Linked DNA regions of Homo sapiens: region 2 is linked to region 1. Evidence: fine-mapped expression QTL. A gene starts in region 1. The other region holds a variant in brackets. All regions are shown on one strand. Distances are from middle to middle. Region 1 holds the start of GRK2 (G protein-coupled receptor kinase 2). Region 2 overlaps ANKRD13D (ankyrin repeat domain 13D).

The links. PIP is the estimated chance that this variant, and not a neighbour inherited with it, causes the effect. A credible set is the group of variants that fine-mapping cannot tell apart.
Region 2: its variant is the best candidate, but not a certain one, in a credible set for the expression of GRK2 in whole blood (TOPMed, PIP 0.57).

Annotation. Positions count from the first base shown.
Region 1 is chr11:67,263,827-67,269,197 of GRCh38, forward strand. GRK2 (G protein-coupled receptor kinase 2) reads left to right here and starts at 2,647. Exons shown (of 21, transcript NM_001619.5): 1 at 2,647-2,986. The coding sequence starts at 2,874. RefSeq lists silencers at 2,436-2,635, 4,556-4,605 and enhancers at 4,166-4,215, 4,916-4,975.
Region 2 is chr11:67,292,337-67,297,707 of GRCh38, forward strand. The region is part of intron 6 of ANKRD13D (ankyrin repeat domain 13D); the gene reads left to right. Among named protein-coding and RNA genes, the nearest start is that of ANKRD13D, 5.7 kb to the left of the region's middle. The variant C/T (reference allele first, on the strand shown) is at 2,877.

The DNA.
Region 1 (5,371 bases):
TTCAGGCCTGGCAGGGGGTGTGGATTGGGCTGTGGGTGGGAGGGACTGAGTTTTTAGGTGGGGATGGGAAGGTAAGGCCACCTCTTGGAACAGGATGGCTGGCATTTCAGAACTCACACACAGACTCTGGTCCAACAAGTTCATCAGGTAGAATTTTTAAAATAGAGGCTATTCCCGAAAACCCTGGCTGACATGTGGCTGTGCTCGCAGTCCAGAGGAGTCAGGACAGGGCTGTGGGGAGAGGAGGTTAGAGGCTTCATGTTGTGGCATCTGGCCTTGTTCCACCCCAAAACCCATGTGTTCCAAGAGCTCATTCACTCATTCATTCACTCATCAAACACTGATGCCTTTGAGTCGGGTCCTGTGGTGGGCACTGGGAGCAAAGGATGAACTAGGGGCACCAGTGACAGTGGGGGACAGTATGTCCTCTTTAAATATATATATCAGCATTTCCAACATCAGGATGCATTTTCCAATTGATGCTGACATGTAACGAGGCTTCACTCCCCACTGTCGAAACTTGCAACAATGCATCTTGCAACTGAAAATGGAAAACAGGGCCTAGAAGGTGGTAAGTGTAGAATTGGAGATGTACATAGTTGGGGTCAGGGAGTCAGGGAAGACTACCTGGAGGAGGTGAGTCTTAGCGGATGAGTAGGAGTTGTCCACGGAGGAAGGTACACAGAAGGGCTTCCAGGCCCAGGAAACAGCAGAGGCACAGAAGTGAGAATGGGTGGGTGAGTTGGTGGGGAAACTCCAGGTGCAGAGGATGGTAGCGAAACAAACTGGAGCATTCAAGGTCCAAGTCCTCCAAGATCTTGACTTGCAGATTAAGGAGTTTGTTCACCTAATCTGCTTTGGGCAGAGTGTGGTGAGTCCTAGAGACCCCTCTAGGTCTCTCACTCTCAGTAGCCCCAGAAGGCCTGGAGAGCTGCTTCTGGGTGCCAAGCAGGCAGTGACTCCATCAGATCTAGATTTGGGAAAAGCATCCCTGGTCAGGGCCTGCATCAGGGCAGTGGCTGGCCATGAGGACCCTGAGAAGTAGACAGATTCACGGAGATTCTCAGGAGGCCAGACAGGAGACTATGGTGACAAATTAGATTAGAGAAGGGGAGAGAATGAAGGAGCAGTTGGGGAAAAGAAAACTGAGGCTCTGACATGGGTATATGGGTGGCGAGTGACTCACCACCCACTGAGAGGAGAACCTCACAAGCTCTGACATGCTCTGGTTCCAGGTTCTGTTGGGGCTGATCCAAGATGGTAGCCTAGAGGTGCACAGAGATGGGGGCCTTGCTTTGCAAAAGGATGCTGGCTGCTGGCCCACAGCATGGTAATGAGATTTGAGCTTTATGTGCCCAGGGCTGGGAGGAGGGTCCTGTCACTTTGAAAGCAAAGAGAGGCTCTAGAGAGGGGCATGTTGAGATAGGAATGCTGCCTTGAGACACCTGGCTTTCCCCACTCTGGGTGGGCTCTCAGCAGGGTGGGTTTCCCCTGCCAGGCAGCACTGAAACCTCTGTGCGCTTCCGGGCTGGGAGAGTTTTTACCGTAACTACATGTGGAACCATCCTGAAGGAACATCTGGATGGGATGGGGTACAGGGAAGGGAGCTGCCAAGAGTGCTGGCCAGGGACCTGGGTCTATGAGCTGGTTGGGGGGTGGGGTTGGGTGCAGGGTACTTGATCCTGAGTGGGCCTTCTGCGGCCAGGATTGGTTCTAGAGTAGGAGGGGTGGGATCAGGGATGGGGGAAGCCTGTAACTGCGCTGCAGTTGTCAGGTCCCAGGTTCTGGGTGACCTACTAAGGATTCTGGGTCCAGTGTGGGTCCCAGGTTAGACGTCCTAGTCCTGAGTCCGTGTCCACAGTTCTGGGTGTTGAGTCTAGGACAGTGATCTGGAGTTGACAGTCCAATCTAGGTCTGAGTCCTGACCCCAAGTCTAGAGTTCAGGGTCATGGTAGTAGCCTAGGGTCAGAATCAAGGTTGGGGTCAGTAACCAGGATGGGATCGAGGTCATGGTCCAAAATCTGGATCTGGGGACCTGTTGGGGGTCTGAGGTGAGTGTCGCAGTCTGGGTATGGCGTTGGAGACCCAGGGCTGTGATCTGAGGTCATGGTTAGAGTCTGAGGTGGTGGGCCAAGGTTTGAGTCTGGGGTCCTGTTTGGAGTCTGGTGTCAGGTCGTGGACTGCGTCCAAGGTCAGGGAGTCCGGGGTTATAGCCAGGGTCTGAGATGAAAGTCCCAGGATGGTGTTCAGAGGTCTGAATCTGTGTCTTGGTGAGCGTCCAGGTTCCCTGTGATCACGTTTGGTGTCAGGGCTGCGGCCCGACTGGGGAGCCTGGGATCCAGAGATGTGACCCGAGGTTGTGGTCAGAGAATGGGTCTCGGGTCGTCTTCCGTGCCGGGTCCCTGTCGTGTTCCAGGCCCGGGTCTCCGTCCAGCATCGAGGGCCGAGGTCACGGCCAGGGTCTGAGCCCGCGGTCGCAGGTCTGGTTCGGGGTCAGATTCCGCGCGGCCTCCAGGGGGCGCCGTCGCCCGCCCGGCTCGGCCCCTCGCGGGCTCGCTGGCGTTGTGCGCGGCAGGCGGGGCCGGAGGCGGCGGCGGCTCCGGGGCGCGGGCGCGCGGGCGGCGGCGGCGGCGGCGCCCCGACTGCAGTCCCGGCGGGAGCGGAGCGCGAGCCGGGGCCGGGCCCGAGCCGGCGCCATGGGGCGGCGCCGCCTGTGAGCGGCGGCGAGCGGAGCCGCGGGCGCCGAGCAGGGCCAGGCGGGAGGCGTCGGCGCCCGAGGCCGAGCGAGCCGCGGCCGGGCCGGGCCGAGCGCCGAGCGAGCAGGAGCGGCGGCGGCGGCGGCGGCGGCGGGAGGAGGCAGCGCCGCCGCCAAGATGGCGGACCTGGAGGCGGTGCTGGCCGACGTGAGCTACCTGATGGCCATGGAGAAGAGCAAGGCCACGCCGGCCGCGCGCGCCAGCAAGAAGATCCTGCTGCCCGAGCCCAGGTGAGGAGAAGCTGCCCGCGGCCCCGGCCCGACCCCGCGGGCGCCCCGGCCGCGGCCCCGAGACCCTGGCCCCATGCTCGACCCCGCGACCTGGACCCCCGGGGCCGGCTCTCGCAACCCCCTGTCGGCCCCCCAGCCCGGAGCAGCCCGGCCTTGGCGCCTGCGGGTCCAGACCCTAAGCCCCAGACCCTGGGCGCCTGAGCCCGGAGCGCCCCAACTCCGGAGCTCCTCTGCCCCATCGGTCCCCGGACCCAGTCGGGTCCCCCTGGCCGCCCTGCTGCTTCCTTATCGTGCTCCACCGGCCCCCCGAAGTCGCTGTCAGCCCCTGGCTCCCGCCTTCTCCCACGGGGGCCCGGCGCGCCCCTTCATCCTTCTCGGAGCAGCCCTTGGTCCCTGTGGGGTCCCCTCCCCTCCGCTGGCCACCATTTACCTCGCCTGACGATGTCACCCACCCTTTTGCTGTCCCTGCTCACGGCACTCGCTTTAGGGTTTCCACTACCCCCACCCGTCTCTCCTCCAGTCTACACTTGTGTGAGGTGTTGGGGGACAGCCAGTCTTCCGGACTCTTCTCCCACCCTCTGGTGGGGTCGCTGTCCTGGAGTTGGGCTCGAGAGTGCTTTCAGGGCGGCGTGGTGAGCAGGACCTAGGGTGCTGCGGGCACCCTCCCCCTCGGACCGCGCTCAGGTCGGGGAAACATCCCCTGTGCCCTCTCCCCTACATTTCTCCTCTGGCAGGCCCTGCATATGGTGCCCCGTGGGTGCTGTTGACCAGGGGCCCTCCCAGCACACCTGCAATGGCTGGACCTTAGCTGCCGCCTCTGTAAGACAACTGACATCACACCTGGTATCAAAGTTTAGACTGTTCAGGATGTAGGTGCAAAAGTACACAGGATGTGGACGATTGCTGCGGTTTGTCCAGCATTTTATGGCTGATAGAGTATCTCTCCACTGTGTGAGCCTCTCAGCAGCGCATGGGGTGGCGAGGACAGGTGTGGTTTTGTCCCTGTGGAACAGATGGGGAAACTGAAGCTCCAGAGGTGAGTGGCCTGCCCCGAGTCACACAGGTAGTCCCAGGTGGCACCTGGCCAACAGATCAGGGCTTCAGACTTCTGGTTCTACATTTCATCAGCTACCCTGGCCTGTGCCAGGGAGCAGACGTGCCCGCCACGATTCTTTGTGTCGTGTGGCAACTCCTTGTGCATGCCTGAGAGTTGGCCTCCTCCTGGTGCCCCAGCGGGCTGGGGATGGGGCCTGTCCACACTGCCGTGGTCTTATCTTGTGACTCTGGGTAAGTCTCTTCCCTCACTGGGCCTCGGTCTTCTCATCTGTGAAATGTGGATGGCGTGAAATAAGAGCTGTGACTCTGCGGTGTCCCTCAGCCTTTGAAGCAGCCGTCTAAGCTCTGGCTGACGCTGCAGGGGTGCCCCATGCCCATGGCCCTCACCGCCCCCCTGTGCCATGCCCTGCTCACTGGGTGTTTGGATTGACTGAACGTCAGGCCTGGGAGAGGAAAATTGGTCTGCATTTTGAAAAGGCCGTTAGGGCCTTTTTTTTTCTAAGACATTTGCAATCAGATTTCTCAAAACAGGAACCAGACTGACTGTCAGCTGGGGGCTGTCCAGGGAGCAGTGACGGTTAGTACAGAAATGAGTTCAGAAATGACAAACCCACGAGGGAGGAAACGGGGGAGTCAGCCTCTAGGGCTCAAAACGGCTCTCCTTGGTGGCTGCAGCCTCGAGACCCTCCTGCAGGATGGAGTTCTGCAACTGTGAGGCGGGGCCTTTTCTGGAACTGTCTGCGTTCGGGTAATCTCCCCCCAGAATGCATTGCTTCTGATGGGGCGCCGCCTTGGCTCTGCAGGTGTCAGAACCCTGAGAAACGAGATGGTCTTCTTTTCCTGTCCCCTTTCCCATCCATGGTAGTGATGGCGGTGATAGCAATAATGATAGGAATTATTACTGACTTACCTATTTTGATATCTGTCATCTCAGTTCTTCCAGCAACCAACCTGTGAAGCTGGCAAGGCCATGCCTTGCATGTAGTAGTTGCTCAAGAAATACCAGGACTGTGTGGCACCCCCATGCAGTCCTGAGCAGAAACAAGGTTGGATAGGATTCTAGGAGGACAGCAGGAGGCCGAGCCAGGCAGCCCAGGTTTTCACATTGGGTCACCATCAGCAGCATGGCCTTCCGCAAATCGCCCACATCTGTGAAACGGACTGGAGGTGCGAGCGCCGAATGTCAGTGCGCTAAGGCCTGGGAAGGGCTACTGGCCACCCCTACATGGGGGTCCAGGCCTGGGGCATTAGGGAGCAGGCCACCCTTTGCATAACGCCTTGCCTTGCACACCCAGTGGGGCAGAGCACGCCGCCCCCCGCCCCCCGCCG
Region 2 (5,371 bases), 29 kb after region 1:
TCACTCAGACTGCCGGGGTGGTTGGGCTCCTGTGGCCACCTTTGTGGGGAGGGGTCAGGTCAAGATGTCCCCAGTTTCTTGACTTCTGACCTCATATGTTTTCCCATTAAGACAAAGATTTAGGCTGTGGTTCACGGCAGCTCTTTGCACCAATGTTGGCTTGTCATTGGTGCGGCTGTGTTGGGGGCAGAATCCTTTGTGGGTAGCCTAGGAACCTGACCCTTCCAGCAAGAGTTTCTCTGACAACACATGCCCCCTCTTGCCTTAACAGTCAGTGGAAACACTTAAAAAAAAAAACAAAAAACCTTTATTGAGATATAATCTCATATACCATATAAGATCACCCATTTAAAGCATACAGTTCAATGACTTTTAGTATATTTATTCAGAGATTTGTACATCACCACAGTCAATTTTAGAACATTTTTATCACCTCAGGAAGAAACCCCCCACCCTTTAGCTAACTCTTCGCCAAACTTCTTATCCCCTCTCCCAGTCCTAAGCAACCACTAATCTACTTTCTGTGTCTGTAGAATTCCCTGCTCTGAGTTCTCATATGAATGGAATTTTATAATATGTTGCCTTTTGTGTCTGGCTTCTTTCACTTAGTATAATATATTCAAGGTTCATCCAAGTTGTAGCACGTAACTATTTCTTTCCTTTTTGTGGCCATTGTATGAATATACCATATCTTGTTTATTCATTAACCCATCGATAGACATTTGGGTTATTTGCATTATTTGGCTTATGAATAATGCCACTCTAAGTATTCATGTGCAAGTTTTTGTGTAGACGTATGTTTTAATTTCTCTTTCATATGTTTTCATTTCTCTTGGGTATATACCTAAGAGTGGAATTGCTAGGTTACTGATAACTCATTGTTTAATTGACTGTTTACCAAACGAGCTGTACTGGTTTACATTCCCACCAGCAGCATGTGAGGGTTCCAGTTTCTCCACATCCTCATCAACACGTCATTATTCACTCATTTGTTTTTGGAATCTAGCCAGCCTAGTGGGTGAGAAGTGATAGCTCACTGTGATTTTGATTTGCCTTTCTTTGATGACTAATGATGTTGAGCATCTTTTCATGTGCTTATTGGTCAATTGTATATCTTCTTTGCAGAAATGTCTATTCAGATCCTTTACTCATTTTTTATTTAACTTAATTAACTTATTTATTTTGAGATGGGGTCTGGCCTTTCACCCAGGATGGAGTGCAGTGACATGATCATGGCTCATTGCACCCTCCACCTCCCAGGCTCAAGTGATCTAAGTAGCTGGGACTACAGGTGCATGCTGCCATGCCCAGCTAATTTTTAAATTATTTGTAATTATTTTATTATATCATTTAATTGTTTTGTTTAGTTATTTGTAGAGATAGAGTCTACAGACTGGTCTTAAACTCTTAGGCTGAAGCGACCTGCCTACCTGGGCCTCCCACAGTGCTGGGATTACAGGCATGAGCCACCACACCTATCCCTTCACCCATTTAAAAAATTGGGTCATCTTTTGATTATTGAGTCATAGGAGTTTTATAATTTTAGCTGTTACACTTAGGTCTTTGAGCCATTTTAAGTTAATTTTTGTGTATAGTGGAAGGTTCTTTTGCATGTGACTATCCAGTTGTCCTAGCCCCCTTTGTTGAAAAGACTATGTTTTTCCCACTGAATGGTCTTGTCACCCTTGTCGAAAATCAGTTGACCATAGATAAATTGGTTACTTTCTGACTCCCACATTAGTTCCATTGGTCTACATGTCTGTCTTTATGCCAATATTATACTGTCTTAATCACTGTTGCTTTGCAATAAGTTTTGAAATTGGAAAGTGTGAGTCTTCCTACTTTGTTTTTCTTTTTCAGGGTTATTTCAGTATTTTGGGACCCTCGCATTTTATATGAATTCTATTTTCTTTTTTCTCACAACCCAGTGTAGGCAGAATATATGAATTCTAGATTCAGCTTGTCAATTTCTACAGTCAGGTGGGATTCTGATAGGAATTGCACTGAATCTATAAAGCAGTTTGGGGAATAGTACCATGTTAACAATGTTAAGTCTTCTAATCCGTGAACATGGGATGTTTTTCCATTTATTTGGATCTTCTTTAATTTATTTCAACATTATTTTATAGTTTTCAGAGTGTAAGCTTTGCACTTTTGTTACATTTATTCCTAAGTGTTTTATTCTGTTTTTTGTTTTGTTTTGTTTTTTTGTTTTTTTTTTTGAGATGGAGTCTCACTCTATTGCCCAGGCTGGAGTGCAGTGGCACAATCTAGGCTCACTGCAACCTCCACCTCCTGGGTTCAAGCAGTTCTCCTGCCTCAGCCTCCCAAGTAGCTGGGATTACAGGTGCCCACCACCACTCCTTGCTAATTTTTGCATTTTTAGAGAGACAGGATTTCACCATGTCGGACCAGGCTGGTCTCCAACTCCTGACCTTGCTGGGATTACAGGTGTGAGCCACCGTGCCTGGCCACTAAGGGTTTTATTCTTTTTGATACAATTATGAATCAAATGTTTTTCTTAATTTTATTTTTTGATTGTGTATTGCAAATGTATAAAATTACAATTGATTTCTGTATGTTGACCATGTATCCTGCAACATTGCTAAACTCATTCATTCAAGTAGATTTTTAGTGGATTCCTTTCCTCAGTATTTTTTTTAACATATAAGATTATGTTATCTGTAAATAGATTTAGTTGTATTTCTTCCTTTCCAATTTAGGTGCCTTTTGTTTCTTTTTCTTGCTTAATTGCTCTGACTAGAACTTCCAGTAGAATATTGATTAAAGGTTGTTAGAGGCTGGATGCGGTGGCTCACGCCTGTAATCCCAGCACTTTGGGAGGCCGAGGTGGGTGGATCACGAGGTCAGGAGAT[C/T]GAGACCATCCTGGCTAACATGGTGAAACCCCATCTGTACTAAAAATACAAACAATTAGCCAGGCTTGGTGGCGGGCGCCTGTAATCCCAGCTACTCAGGAGGCTGAGGCAGGAGAATGGTGTGAACCCGGGAGGCAGAGCTTGCAGTGAGCCAAAATCACGCCACTTCACTCCAGCCTGGGCGACAGACCAAGACTCCATCTCAAAAAAAAAGGGGGGTGGTTAGAGCAGGCTGGGCATAGTGGTTCACGCCTGTAATCCCAGAACTTTGGGAGGCTGAGGCAGCCAGATCACTTGAGGTCAGGAGTTTGAGACTAAGCTGGCCAACATGGTGAAACATCATCTCTACTAAAAATACAAAAACAAAAAAAAAATTAGCCAGGCATGGTGGTGGGCACCTGTAGTCCCAGCTGCTTGGGAGACTGAGGCACAAGAATTGCTTGAACACAGGAGGCAGAGGTTGCAGTGAGTCCAGATTGTGCCACTGCACTCCAGCCTGGGTGACAGAGCAAGACTCCATCTAAAACAGTAAATAAATAAATAAAAAAGAAAAGAAAAGTGGTTAGAGCAGACATCCTTGTATTCTTGTCTTGTTCTTCATCTTAGGGGAAAAACATTCAGTCTTACCATTAAGTATGATATTAGTTGTGAGTTTTTGGTAGATACCCTTCATCAGGTTAAGGTAATTCCTTTCCATTCCTCATTGTTAGAGTGTTTTTATCATGAAAGGATGTTGGATTTTGTGAAATGCTTTTTCTGTGTTTATTGATATGATCATGTGATTTTTTAAAAAATTCTATTGATACATCAATTGACCTATGGATATTGAACCAACCTTGCATTCCTGTGATAAGTTCCACTTGGTTGTGGTGTATAATTCTTTTCATATGTTGCTAGATTTGGTTGGTTCGTATTTTGTTGAGGATTTTGTGTCCATATTCATAAGTGATATTGGTCTGTAGTTTTCTTGTGATATATGTCTGGTTTTGGTATCTGGGTGATGCCTCATAACTGAAGTGGAAAATGTCACCTCTTTGTCTATTTTTTTTAATAGTTTGCAAATAATTGGTATTAATTTGTCTTCAAAAGATTGGTAGGATTCAGTGGTGAAGCCATTTGGGCCTGAGTGTGTGTGTGTGTGTGTGTGTGTGTGTATGTGTGTATAGTTTTTTGTTGTTATATTTACCAATCAGTCTCTTGACTTGTTATCCATCTATTCAGATTATCTATTTATTCTCAAATTAGTTTTGGTAGTTTGTGTCTCACTAGGAATTTGTCCATTTCATCTAAATTATAAAATTTGTTGGTGTACAGCTATCATTGTATCCTTTTATAATGCTTTTTATTTCTGTTGCTCCCCTCTTTCATTTCTGATTCTGGTGAGTAATTTGAAGTTTTTGTTTTGTTTTGTTTTGTTTTGTTTTGTTTTGTTTTTGAGACAGAGTCTTACTCTGTCACCCAGGCTGAAGTGCAGTGGCATGATAAGAGCTCACTGCAGCCTTGAACTCCTGGGCTTAGGTGATTCTTCAACCTCCCAAGTAGCTGGGACTGCAGGCATGCACCACCAAGCCCAGCTAATTTTCTTTTTTTGTAGAGATGTGGTCTCACTATGTCATCCAGGCTGCTTTTGAACTCCTGGCCTCAAACAATCCTCCTGCCTTGGCCTCCCAAAGCACTGACATTACAGGTGTGAACCACCGCCCCCAGCCAAGTCTTCTCTCTCTTTTTTTGCCCACCGTGGTCAACCTAGCTAAAGGTTTGTCAATTTTGTTGATGTTTTCGAAGAGCCAGTTTTTGGTTTCATTAATTTTCTCTATTATTTTTCTATTCTCTATTTCATTAACCTTTACTGTAATATTTATTATTTCTTTCTGTTCTTTCTGGTTTAGTTTGCTCTTTTTCCATTGTCTTAACATGGAAGGTTAGGTTAAGGTTATTGATTTGAGATCTTCTTTCTTAATATAGGCATTCACACATATTACATTTATACTTCTAGGCATGTCTTTTCTTTTTTTGACATGGGGTCTCACTCCATCGCCCAGGCTGGAGTGCAGTGGTGTGATAGCTCACTGCAACCTCCGCCTCCCAGGCTCAAGTGATCCTCCCACCTCAGCCTCCTGAGTAGCTGGGAACACAGGCGCCAGCTAATTTTTTCTGTTTTTAGTAGAGATGGGGTTTCACCATGTTGCACAGGCTGGTCTCGAACTCCTGTGCTCAAGCAATCTGCCTGTCTCAGCCTCCCAAAGTGCTGGGATTACAGGCGTGAGCCACCGGGCCTGGCCTGGCCTTTACCTGTGTCTCATAAGTTTTTTGGTTTTTTTTTTTTTTTCTGAGAGGGAGTCTTGCTCTGTCGCCCAGGCTGGAGTGCAGTGGCACGATCTCGGCTTACTGCAAGCTCCGCCTCCCGGGTTCACGCCATTCTCCTGGCTCAGCCTCCCGAGTAGCTGGGACTATAGGCGCCTGCCACCACGCCCGGCTAATTTTTTGTATTTTTA